Homo sapiens: one gene and its partners. The protein of the gene in region 2 interacts with the protein of the main gene of each other region in a biochemical or structural test. Each region holds a gene or a part of one and is shown on either strand. Other genes may lie near its edges.

Region 1 (3,600 bases), on a different chromosome or scaffold from region 2:
CCACACCCTTAGAAAAATTACCAATGAAAGTTGAAAAATTGCTCCCTTAATTGTAGCATTAGTTCAAGAATTTTTTTGAAAGAATAGTGCCATATGTATTAAAGAGATTTTTGAGGAACAAAAAAACACAGTCAAAAATTTGAGGGCAATATACTACTACTGATTTTACTCTAGAAATGAACCAAATTATTTTTAGTTGCTGTAGAGGTACTCCACTAAATCTGTAAACATGTTTTTTTGTTTTGTTTTGTTTTTTGCGTCTGCAGCGCAAATCCAGAAAAACCCTGTGCATCATCATTCTTATCCTTGTCATTGGAGTTGCGATTATCAGTCTCATCATATGGGGATTGAACCACTGAAGTTATAAAGGAGCACACTGTCGCACTACATTGTCTAAATTATGTAGGAAGATTCCTGTAATCATGTTTTTTTAATTATTATTTTAAAGCTATTGTATAAAGGATGGTTCCCATACTTTGTTATTTTTATTGGGGGGGTTGGGGTGGTTCCTTTGGATTAAATCTGATATTTTCTAATACTGAAAGATTTTCTAAATGTCACTGCTGACATAACTCCCTTGGTCTTCAATTTAATAGTTGTTAAGTTTTTGCCCACATTGCATATGCCTTTCATTTATAATTTATTTACCCTGCTTGACTTAGTTTTGGGAATTCGTAAATTTAAAGGTGTGTGTATTCTGTTTGCATCTCCCTGTCACTGTGACACACCTAGATGTGTGTTACTTCAATTAAAATTCTCAAATTTAATTTTGATTTGCTTCAGCAGGGAAAATATTCTCAATAATGTAAAATAATTAAGGTCTATACATGGGTTGTATTTTTCTGGTTCACAACAGCACAAAGTGTCTTTCATTTTTTTGTTGGTTTTCTTTTAAGATCTTTTTTACCCTGAAGTCGGTGAATACTTTTCTAGTTTATTTGATACTCTTTCTGTGTATATATTAAGCTTTTGCTGTAGATTGCCTAGTAAAATTACTAAGGATAGGTTGTTTTTACATATGGTCTATTTAAGTCTGATGTTTACGGGGGAAAGTGTAGTTACTAAAAATGTTTAACATAATTTGGAAGAAGAGTATGAACAACCAATACCAATACCTATTGCGTTTGGATTCTTAAGACCCCAGTTTGTTATTCCACTAAACTAGTTATCTTAACCATATCATCTGGTTTTGTGGGCCATTATTTACCTTCCCTTATGTCTTATAGAATAATGGTTAATATTTTTAGGTCAAAATTACTTTTGGAAAGTAACTTTCCCACAATTAACTGTTTTTGAGCACCTGACAAAATTTAGTGTTTACCTTGCGTGCCATTTTGTGTCATCCTTCATTAAAAAAGCAATTGGAGGTTTGCCAGTTATCTCACTTCCCTTTTTAAATCAATGTTGTTTTAATGCACTAATCTGAATTCTGTAAAGAGGATTATCTTAGTTTATACTTTGTATTTTATAATGTTCTTGTATAGCAGCTCGGTACTGAAGGCGGTGTTTAACTTGGCAAGCTCTGAGACTTCAAATGGGAACAAATAGTAAGTAGCTAAGTAAACCACATCTTTGCAACCAAAATAAAGATGAGTTAAAAGGTATCTGGTTAGGCCTATTTCATGAGGACTATGCTCTGGTGGGACCACAGGTCACCTGATACTTAGTGCTGTGCTGCCTGAAACCTCAGCATGGAGACATCACCACATGCACTGTGGCCATTCAGCATCTTTCTGGAGCACCAGTTCACTCCAGGTTTTTATTTTAGGGTGTCATCGATTTTACCTACTTTGTCAGACTGGTAGAAGTTGCTTTGCATATCAGAAAAACTCCATTTTTTTCCACAAAAGGGATTACAGAAAACTCTTTTGTGAGTGAGTGATTGGAACTTAGAGACTCCTGTTGCCAGAATCAGACTGCCCTAGAACAGAATGGACAATGCAGGGAGGAGAATTCACACAAACAGCACCTGTTCTGAGGCCTGTGCCAGCCCACCAGGCCTGCTCAAATGTGGTCTTTACTTCAAGTGCACAGAGGCACATGAGGTTTCTGGTGATAAACCAGCGTCTTACCGCTGTTTTAAAGTCCCATCCCCATGGCTTTCACAATCAGTTCCGTTTTTTTTGCTGTACTTGATAAAATGTTTATTCTCATACAGGTCAAGTACATTTACTTCTATTCACAGTGAGTACCCAATAACAACAAAAGCGCTTACAAATTTGGGGGGCGTGATTTTAGTACCTTTATTTGAAGTGTAATCATTTTAAATTATTATTATTTTAACTGGGGCAGTTATCAGTGGTTTAAACAGGAACTTTAGTGGCTTCAATTTGTTTAAGAAACATATTAAGTTTGAGGGAAAAATTTCCCATGAAATATTTGGAACGTAAGAGTAGTATTGATTAGAGAAAATTAAATAAGAAACATAGTATGGTAGCCAAATTTTTTAAAAAATCTTGAACTTTTCTGTAGGTCAGTTTTAGAACTGCTGTGAAAAGTGAAGGTTGCCCTGTGGAGATTAAAATTAGAGTTGTTTTCATAACTGACAGCATGGTGAATCCATTTGAGTCAAAGTGAAGAATTTCCTCATCAAGTGACTATACATTTGTTTTTGTGTGCTCAAAAGAAATACTCAAACACAGACTGATATTAACCAGCCAGGTAAATTGAACGACAATGTGGCATTAGGTATTTGGCTGTTTATTGGTCGTTAAATACTATGGTTTTGCAATATGATTGATGGTAAAAGAGTGATGTCATATTGATACTAGAGTAGCTTGTTTTTTTAGTAGGTGTGGGACCATCTCTTTTACAAGTGCAACTCAGTCTAGGACAGCCATGGATGCAGTGTCTGGAGTTGGACCCTCTGAGCCCGCTGGCTGCCCCAGTAGCATCTGCATTGGTGACCAAGGACACTGCACTTTGAAGAGGTCGCCACTGGGTTATTTAGTGTCTTCACTGCTTTTGTTAAAAATTGTAAAATTTTGTACACAAAAAGTTGTGTTTTTGAATATCAATTGTTTAGACACACCTACAATGATAAATAAGTGCCTTTAAAGGCCCCTCTTTCCATGAAATACATCTGTGGTTTAGCAAGGAAAGTACAAAATAGTTTATGTAGTTGGTATAATTTTTATTTGTGTCTTCATGTAGAAAAAATGAATGTCATAATAAAATATAAAACTTACGTAAAGAAAATAAAGTCATTGTCCACCTTAATAGCTAAGGTCCACAAGGGTAACTTATGCAGCATTTATTTTTTTTGAAAGTCAAAATTGAATTTATTTCTTTCACATGGCTGGTTTGCTGCAATATGAAGTTTCAGAATGGGCTGAAGTAAGTTGATTGAGGGATTTGAGTTGAATGACATTTTCAAGTTCATTTAAATATGATAAAAATTCATTGGTGGTAAATAACATCTGTCTTTCCTGGAAAAAAAAAAGTTGTGTATTTTCATGATTCAGTTAAAACAAAAAATGAGCCTGTGAATCCCAGGCCTTTTTAGTCCTCCATAACATTTGAACAGTTTGACTTGTCAGCAAAGAAATACACTTATCAAATTTTAAACCAATGGGAGCCTGAAAGTGTTACAGTGTACTG
Region 2 (3,827 bases):
TCTTCCTTAAAAATAAACTAAACACTAGTTATGCCAGTGAAGAGAGGCCCTGAAATCCATTTGGTGGGACTCCAGAGTGTGTGGATTTTATTCTACTGATTATGTAGATATTGGGAGTTTGAGCAGTTACAGAGACTACAGACCTCGCGGGCTAAGCCTGGTTGTATTATTAAGGGCAGAAGAATGCAGTGGGACTTACGGGTTTGAGGTACTAATGAGGTCCCCCAAGTCAAGAGGAGGCTCATTATGTACATGTGGAGGTCAAGAAGCCAGAGTGAAGCTGCCCAAACAGGGTACCCTTTATGTTTTCAAATTCCTGTCTATCTCCCAGTGTATCCCTACTGTTGGACAATAAGTTTTTGGGGGGTTTTGCTGTTTTAAATAATGCTATGCTGAACATCCTTGTAACTTTTCTGATTAGTTTTTTTAGGATAAATTGCTAGAGATGTAATTCATTGCTGGACCACAGGGCCAAATATAAATCCTAATACTTAAAAATATGTGTGTGTGTGTGTCTGTGTATGTGTAAATGTATAGATATATACACACATATATACACATACACATATATACACATGTGTATATATGTACACGTGTGTGTATATATGTATATATTTTTTTTCTCGAAAAGATGTACAAACAGTTAAAAAAAAATTCAGACAGTACAAATACGGGATGTCCAGTGAATAAGTCTGCCTCCCACACCTGGCCCTCCTTCTGCAGGCTTCACCTTAAGAGAAAAATGCTGTTACTAGGTTTTTGTGTATTTGCCCAGAAATATCCTATGTTTATATAAACATGTATGTTTCTATTATTTTCACTCTCTTTCTCTTTTTTTTTTTTTTTTTTTTTTTGAGACAAGGTCTGGCTCTGTCGTCGTCCAGGCTGGAGTTCAATGGTGTGATCTTGGCTTACTGCAACCTCTGCCTCCCAGGCTCAAGTGATCCTCCCACATCAGCCTCTCTAGTAGCTAGGACTACAGGCGTGCACCATCACACCCTGCTAATTTTTTGTATTTTTTGTAGAGTTGGGGTTTTGCCGTGTGGCCCAGGCTGGTCTCGAACTCTTGAGCTCAAGCAATCCGCCAACCTTGGCCTCCCAAAGTGTTGGGATTACAGGAGCCATGAACCACCACACCCAGCCCACCCTCTTTTTTTTTTAAACACAAATGGGAACATCTTATATCTACACTTTAAAATAGTGCTTCCCATTTCTTTGTATGGCTGTGTGATATATATGCCCAGTCCTGAGCTGGTAATGACACACTCCAGGGCTGCAAGGTCTTTATTGAGCAACCACAGAGTGCAAGGCACAGGATTAAGGCTGCCTCTGCGAAAGCAACACGATGTCTTAAACTGGGCTAGTCCCCCAGAATGCTTTGCAGTCTCCCGGGGAAAGGGGATTTGTAGCGCGCCTGGGACCCAGTGGGCCCCTAGTATCCCAGGCAGGAAGTAGAAGAGGCTGTCAGACCCTGGGGTTGTGGTGGGGTCAGGAACTCTTCGCCCCACTACCCCAGCAAGCACCCAGTATCTACCCCAGTACTCCCGGAGGGAGCTGGTCTGCCCGAAGTGAGTGTGCCATTGTATGCAGGGGCGGGGGCCACAGACTCAAGAGGCCTGGGGGAAGCTGGCTTCACAGGTGAAGGGTGAGGGGTAGGGGCACGTCTGTGCCCGGCACTGGAGCAGAATGCTTGCTTTCTCCTGGATAGCCGACTAGATTGTCTCCTTTTTTTCTTTCCTTTTTCCCCAGAGGCTCATCCAAAATAGAGGAAGCATGCGAAATCTACGCCAGAGCAGCAAACATGTTCAAAATGGCCAAAAACTGGAGTGGTATGTCATCTCCGCTAGAGCTCCTCCAAGGTGCTCTCCTCCTCCCTCAGCTTCCACTCACACAGGCCTGCCCGAGAGGTTGGCCTTGAGGGCCCTTTCTCTTTGTATGCCCTCTCCGGCATCGGAAAGCCACTGGCCTGCTCTCTTGTTTTGTGCCTGCTGGGTTACTTTATACTCTGGGTCATGGGGCCTTGGTGAAAGGACAGAGAGGATGGGAATAAATAGATTATTAGACCTAGATAAACCCATGTGGATTGATGAGCTCTTAGAGTCCTCCTTAAATTCAGAACTTCAGGTTTCCTGGTAACTTCCTTAGTGCTTCCATCAGTGTCTAAATTCTAGGCTGGGGGAGGATGTTCAGGTGATTCCAATAACAACGTGAATCATGGCTGCTGTTTGTTGAGTCCTAAGTGCTCATCATTTAATTGCGTTAGCACAGCAGCCCTAAGGGTCAGTCTATAAATATCCCTATTTTACAGATTTGGAAACTGAGGCTTGGCTTAGTCTCTTGCCCAGGATGCCAGAACTAGTAAGTGACAGAACCAAGATTCAGAAACCAAGGCTCTGACTGCAGAGCCTGAGTGTTTAACCTGCCCCAGTGAGGCAGGATAGCTTCACAGAGGAGAGGGGTGGGGAGGAGCCCCTTGGGCTCAGGGAGGCTGGAGATCTGTTTGGAGCTCCCTGCAGGCCCAAGAAGTCCAACAAGCCAGTGTGTTGAGCCCTTTCGAGGCTCATTTCATCATACATCTTTCATGTCACCAAGATTGAATTAAGGAAATACGGCAAGAGACCCAGTGTTTGAATGCAGGGAGGAACTTCTGACTGTGGAGGAGAGGGAACCTGGTGGTGGGACCATGGAGGCAGGGTGCAGAGGTGCACAATAAAATTGATTATCATCGTTTTTGAGAATGTTGTTGGTTTCCCCAAAATTCAAAGAGTTATTCCTGAGTTTTCACAAAATACGTTGTGAATAAAGCCAAATGTTTTTTGTATTTTTATGCTCCCAAACTTAGAAAATTCCTCTAGAGAAAAAAAGCTTATTTTTTAATTACATAGGTGTTGCTTTTCCCCTAAAATTTGTTACCTCTGCCCCCAAACTCTTCAAAGAAAAGCCCTAGGCCATTTCCCCCCGGTAATATCCCCTTTTCTTGAAATTTTTTTTTTTTTTTTTTTTTTTTTTTTTTTGAGACAGTCTTGCTCTGTTGCCAGGCTGGAGTGCAGTGGCGCGATCTTGGCTCACTGCAACCTCCGCCTCCCTGGTTCAAGTGATTCTCCTGCCTCAGCCTCTTGACTAGCTGGGATTACAGGCACGTGCCACTACGCCCAGCTTATTTTTGTATTTTTAGTAGAGACAGAGTTTTACCATGTTGTCCAGGATGGTCTCCATCTCCTGATCTCGTGATCCGCCCACCTCGGCCTCCCAAAGTGCTGGGATTACAGGCATGAGCCACCGCGCCTGGCCGTAATTTTATACTCAAATTTGGAACTCTTGAAAATAATGAAATCATATAGTGAAAACCCGGAAGGCTTTGTCTTTTCTGCTGCTCAAAACTTAAGAGGATAGGGCCAGGCCTCCTGGTCCTCTTCCAGCTTAGAAACTCTGACTCAGATTCAGCTGGAGGAGAATGAAGGGGAGAAGCCTCAGAGCTGAGCTGGAGGTGGTCAGCTGCACGAGGAGGAGGAGAGATGCTGCTGCCTCCCAAACGTCAGTTAGGAGATGTGTGGGCAGAATGGCTTGGGACCCACAGAAGCTGACCGTGTGCAGATGAGCACAGGATGGATGAGGCTTCAGGCACGGTCTCTTCTGCCCTCCGCCCATGGGCACTGGTCTGCATGTATTCATTCTTGCTGTCCACATCCTGTTTCCCTCTCTGGACATGCAGCTCCTGGAGGGAGCCGGCTCTGTGTTGTCCGACCCCAACTCCATGAGCCTCACAATTCATGCAAGTGCCTTGTCCATGGGGATCTGCAGTGAAGGGAACAGAATGTGAACAGAGG
Region 3 (3,827 bases), on a different chromosome or scaffold from region 2:
GTATTAAATGCATTTTCAACTTCTGATACTTTCAGCTTACAATGGGTTTATCGGAAGGTAGCCCCATCGTTAAGTCGAGGAGTATCTACACAAGTTAGGTGGGCTAAGATCCTGGGTTCGGAGTTGAAAAAGCTGCGTTTCGGGACCTTGATTTTAAATAAGCAGTTGGACATATTAACCTGAAACTTAAAGGGCAGGTCTGGACTGGGGGTAAAATATTGAGAATCACTGGCATATAGACAGTTGTAGCTATGGGCTTAGAAGAAATTGCCTGAGCGGGAAATTGAGAGTGAGAAGACGGCCTTTGAGGAATACCAGCAATGAATAACAAAGTAGAGGAGGGTGAGGCCGCAAAAGAGAGGTCTGAGTCAAACCAGGAGCGAGGCATTCCAGAACACATGTGAAGAGTGCTTTCCGTCAAGGAAGCCATGGTCAACAACGTCAAACGCTGCTGAGATATCAAATAAGATAAGGATTGAAAGGTATCAATTAAGTTGAGGGACAGGTTTCAGTGGGATGATGGGGCAGAAATCAGACTGCAGTAGGTTGAAGGGTGAGTAGGTGGTAAGCAAATGGAAGACAATAAATATAGACAACTCTATCAAATTTCCTGCTGTAAACTGGGACGGGAAAAGGTGACAGCTGTGGGGGTGGGGGAAGGGTTTAAGATAGAGAAGCTTGATTATGTTAAGAAGGAGCAGGTGAATATACAGATAGGGTCTGAAGTACTGGCAGAAGGACTAGCCTTAAAAGGAGAGGCCATGGGGAAAAGGAAGAGAAAGAAGCCAAACTAAATGACCTTTAAGATCCCTTCTTACTCTAGAATCTCATGACCTACAAGTCCCTTCAGATAGGGCATTTGCATATATGCATAAATCTATGCAAACTTATTCAAAAATTCTGTTATAAATAGATCAGTCAATCACATCTTTCACCCCCAATGACGCAGTTAATGTCCTCAGGTTTATGACCAGTGTAATCTCCGGGCAGGACTCATCCCTTGAGAGCTTTTAGCTCAAGGCAGACTGCAATACAGCACTCAACCAGCTCTCTCTCCTCGCCAAACCCATCCTACCCAACGATCCTAAAGGCTAAAGGAGGAAGTAAATTTAAAACCCTGAAACTACAGCATATCCTGCTGCATTCGAAGCGAGTGTCATCCATAAAAACAAAACGTGACACCCCAAATCCATCCTCACTCCAAGCTAAAGCCAATTCCTGCCTGACCCGACAGTTGACAGGTCCCCCAGATGGCCGGGCTTTAACACTAAAAGTCATTGGCACCCCCTCCTCTTTCCCAACGACCTTTAATTTGTGAAGAGCCAGACATGGGTTCCTGAAGATCCTTCCTACACCCCTTGCCCCGAATGCAGCAGAGGTGCTCCCGGCAGTTACTCCGGCGCCCCCTAATAAGCCCTCGCAAGGGGGTGCGGAAAGACCCCCAGAGCCCGTCAGAGGGGGCTTCGGCGACCGCGACCCTGCGGCTGTGTGGAGGACGAGGGAACAAGCCCCAAGGGATGGGAAGGGAGGATGACGGGAGGCGCAGCAGACGCGTGTAACGAGGGGTCATCTCCCCTCGAGGGGGGTGGAGTTGTTGAGGAGGGCTAATCCCCTGCCACCGCTCCCCTGCTACCCTCAAGTCCCGCTCTGGCCTCGCGCCCCATTGCTCGGATTCACTCCCACTCCTCTGGGGCCGCCTGGACCCCAGAGTGCCCGCGAGCCCGGCGCCCCTGCCTCAAGCCTGGGCTCCCAGACCGGCACTCACCCGGCCCGCCATCTTCGCGGACACGTCCGGCTCGGCGGCTGCAGCTCTGCGCTCGGCAAAGCCCGCCCCCGCCGCGCGCGCGCCCCCGCCGCCCGCCCTCGCGCAGGCGTGCAACCGCCGTGAGGACGCGCGCGTCCCTGGCCGCGTCCCCGGCGTCCTCGCTCCACAGGGCGCGCGCGCGGGCTCGGCGGCCGCCTGGGGTGCGCGGGGTGGGCAGAGCGGCGGCGCCATTTTGGCTGGAGCTGCGGGGCTGTGGTGGGTGACTCCGTTTCCAACGTGCGTGTCAGTCCGCCGGGGCCTGGAGGGCTGCGCCTGCGAGTCTCATCCCCCACTGGCGGTTCGCGCCGGAATTTGTCTCAAGGGCTTTAATGCTTCGGATCACTTATCCCTTTGCCAGCTGCTGTTCGCCCTCGAATGTCCATTTTGGTCTGTGCTTCCACACTCTCTTTAAACATGGTCTTGCTGATGAGAGCGCCCGGCGCGTTCCCTGGCTTCCCCCAAAAAAGATCAGCTCCGAGGAGTTGGTTCTGAGTTCAAATTCTCCATGAATTTTCTCACTTTTCTTTGTAGGCGTACTTGTTTTCCTAGTTGCTGGAATTGTCATCGTTGGCAGTTTTATTTATGTGTAGCCTGGAAAACTCAGTATTTTCAGATTTGAAAGTGAATTGTGATTATTTTTATACATTATTTTTATTAAATATTTGTCTTTATTTAATAAAGGCAACTTGCATCTTCGACCAACCTTTTCATTCCCCAGTGTTGTTTCATTTTAGACAATATATATGGTAGAATCTGAATAAAATATGCCCTAAATTGAGCCTTGTTGAACCTCAATGTTTCCACCATACCATTTCTCCACTGGAATCTCAGAATATCTAACTGCAAGCACGCTGAGAGGAGAAAGATTCTGCCGAATGGATTCCCTGATGCTTTTATTTACCCCACTATCATATCTCTCTTCATATTTGCACAAGACAATAGGGAATGATAGGATTTGTTCGCTTTCATTTCTCACAATTAGAATAAATCGGGGTTTTTTTCCCAACATGAGGAAAGAAGGGAAATAACTAGAAGAGCTGAGCATGCATAGTGATTTAAATTTGAGAACTAATAAAATCAGACAGTGACCTGAAGATGAACTAGGGACAGAAGAAAAAATTCATGCCAGCCAGGCGCGGTGGCTCATGCCTGTAATCCAAGCACTTTGGGTGGATCACCTAAGGTCAGGAGTTCCAGACCGGCCTGGCCAATATAGTGAAACCCCGTCTCTACTAAAAATACAAAAATTAGCCGGGCGTGGTGGCGGGCGCCTGTGATCTCAGCTACTCAGGAGGCTGAGGTGGGAGAATCGCTTGAACCCCGGAGGCAGAGGTTGAAGTGAGTTGAGATTGCGAGGCTGGGCAACAGAGCGAGACTCCGTCTAAAAAAAAAAAAAAAAAAAAAAAAATTCACGCCTATTTCATTAAGTCTCACACTGAACCTGAGGACCAGGGTGCTTGGTTGACCAAATCAGATGTTAGCTAAATCATGGGTGGGTCGGAGAGGTTATCAGGAAAGATAGGAAACTAGTTGAGTTCTGACATACTAACGTGCAGAAGCTACTAACTTACAAAAACAAATATTAGAATGGCTTGGGGAGTCCAAAGGGTTAGGTTCTTTTCTTTGTCCCTATCTACCCATCACCTGTGTACCTTCATCTCTCTGAGCCCAGTTTCCTTATTTGTTTTTGTTTGTTTGTTTTTGAGACGCAGTCTTACTCTGTCACCCAGGCTGGAGCACAGTGGCATGATCTCGGCTCACTGCAACCTCCGCCTCCCGGGTTCTAGCTATTCTCCTGTCTCAGCCTCCCAAGTCGCTGGTATTACAGGCGCCTGCCACCACACCCAGCTAATTTTTGTATTTTTAGTAGAGACAGGGTTTTGCCATGTTGTCCAGGCTGGTCTCGAACTCTTGACCTCAGGTGATCCACTGGCCTTGTCCTCCCAAAGTGCTGGGATTACAGAAGTGAGCCACCACGCCTGGCCTAGTTTCCTTATTTGTACAGTGAGAGGTATAATTAAAT

Evidence for each region.
Region 1: the proteins of NAPA (region 2) and STX7 form a complex in vitro, tested with the Homo sapiens proteins (one study listed by BioGRID).
Region 3: the proteins of NAPA (region 2) and NSF form a complex in vitro, tested with the Homo sapiens proteins (2 studies listed by BioGRID).

What each region holds. Positions count from the first base shown.
Region 1 is NC_000006.12:132,457,517-132,461,116, reverse strand, and holds part of STX7 (syntaxin-7), read left to right. Parts: intron 1-266; coding exon 267-359; 3' UTR 360-3,600. UniProt on the Homo sapiens protein: May be involved in protein trafficking from the plasma membrane to the early endosome (EE) as well as in homotypic fusion of endocytic organelles. Mediates the endocytic trafficking from early endosomes to late endosomes and lysosomes.
Region 2 is NC_000019.10:47,501,425-47,505,251, reverse strand, and holds part of NAPA (alpha-soluble NSF attachment protein), read left to right. Parts: intron 1-1,749; coding exon 1,750-1,829; intron 1,830-3,654; exon of another isoform or gene 3,655-3,795; intron 3,796-3,827. UniProt on the Homo sapiens protein: Required for vesicular transport between the endoplasmic reticulum and the Golgi apparatus. Together with GNA12 promotes CDH5 localization to plasma membrane.
Region 3 is NC_000017.11:46,588,726-46,592,552, reverse strand, and holds the start of NSF (vesicle-fusing ATPase), read right to left. Parts: upstream 1,885-3,827; 5' UTR 1,778-1,884; coding exon 1,766-1,777; intron 1-1,765.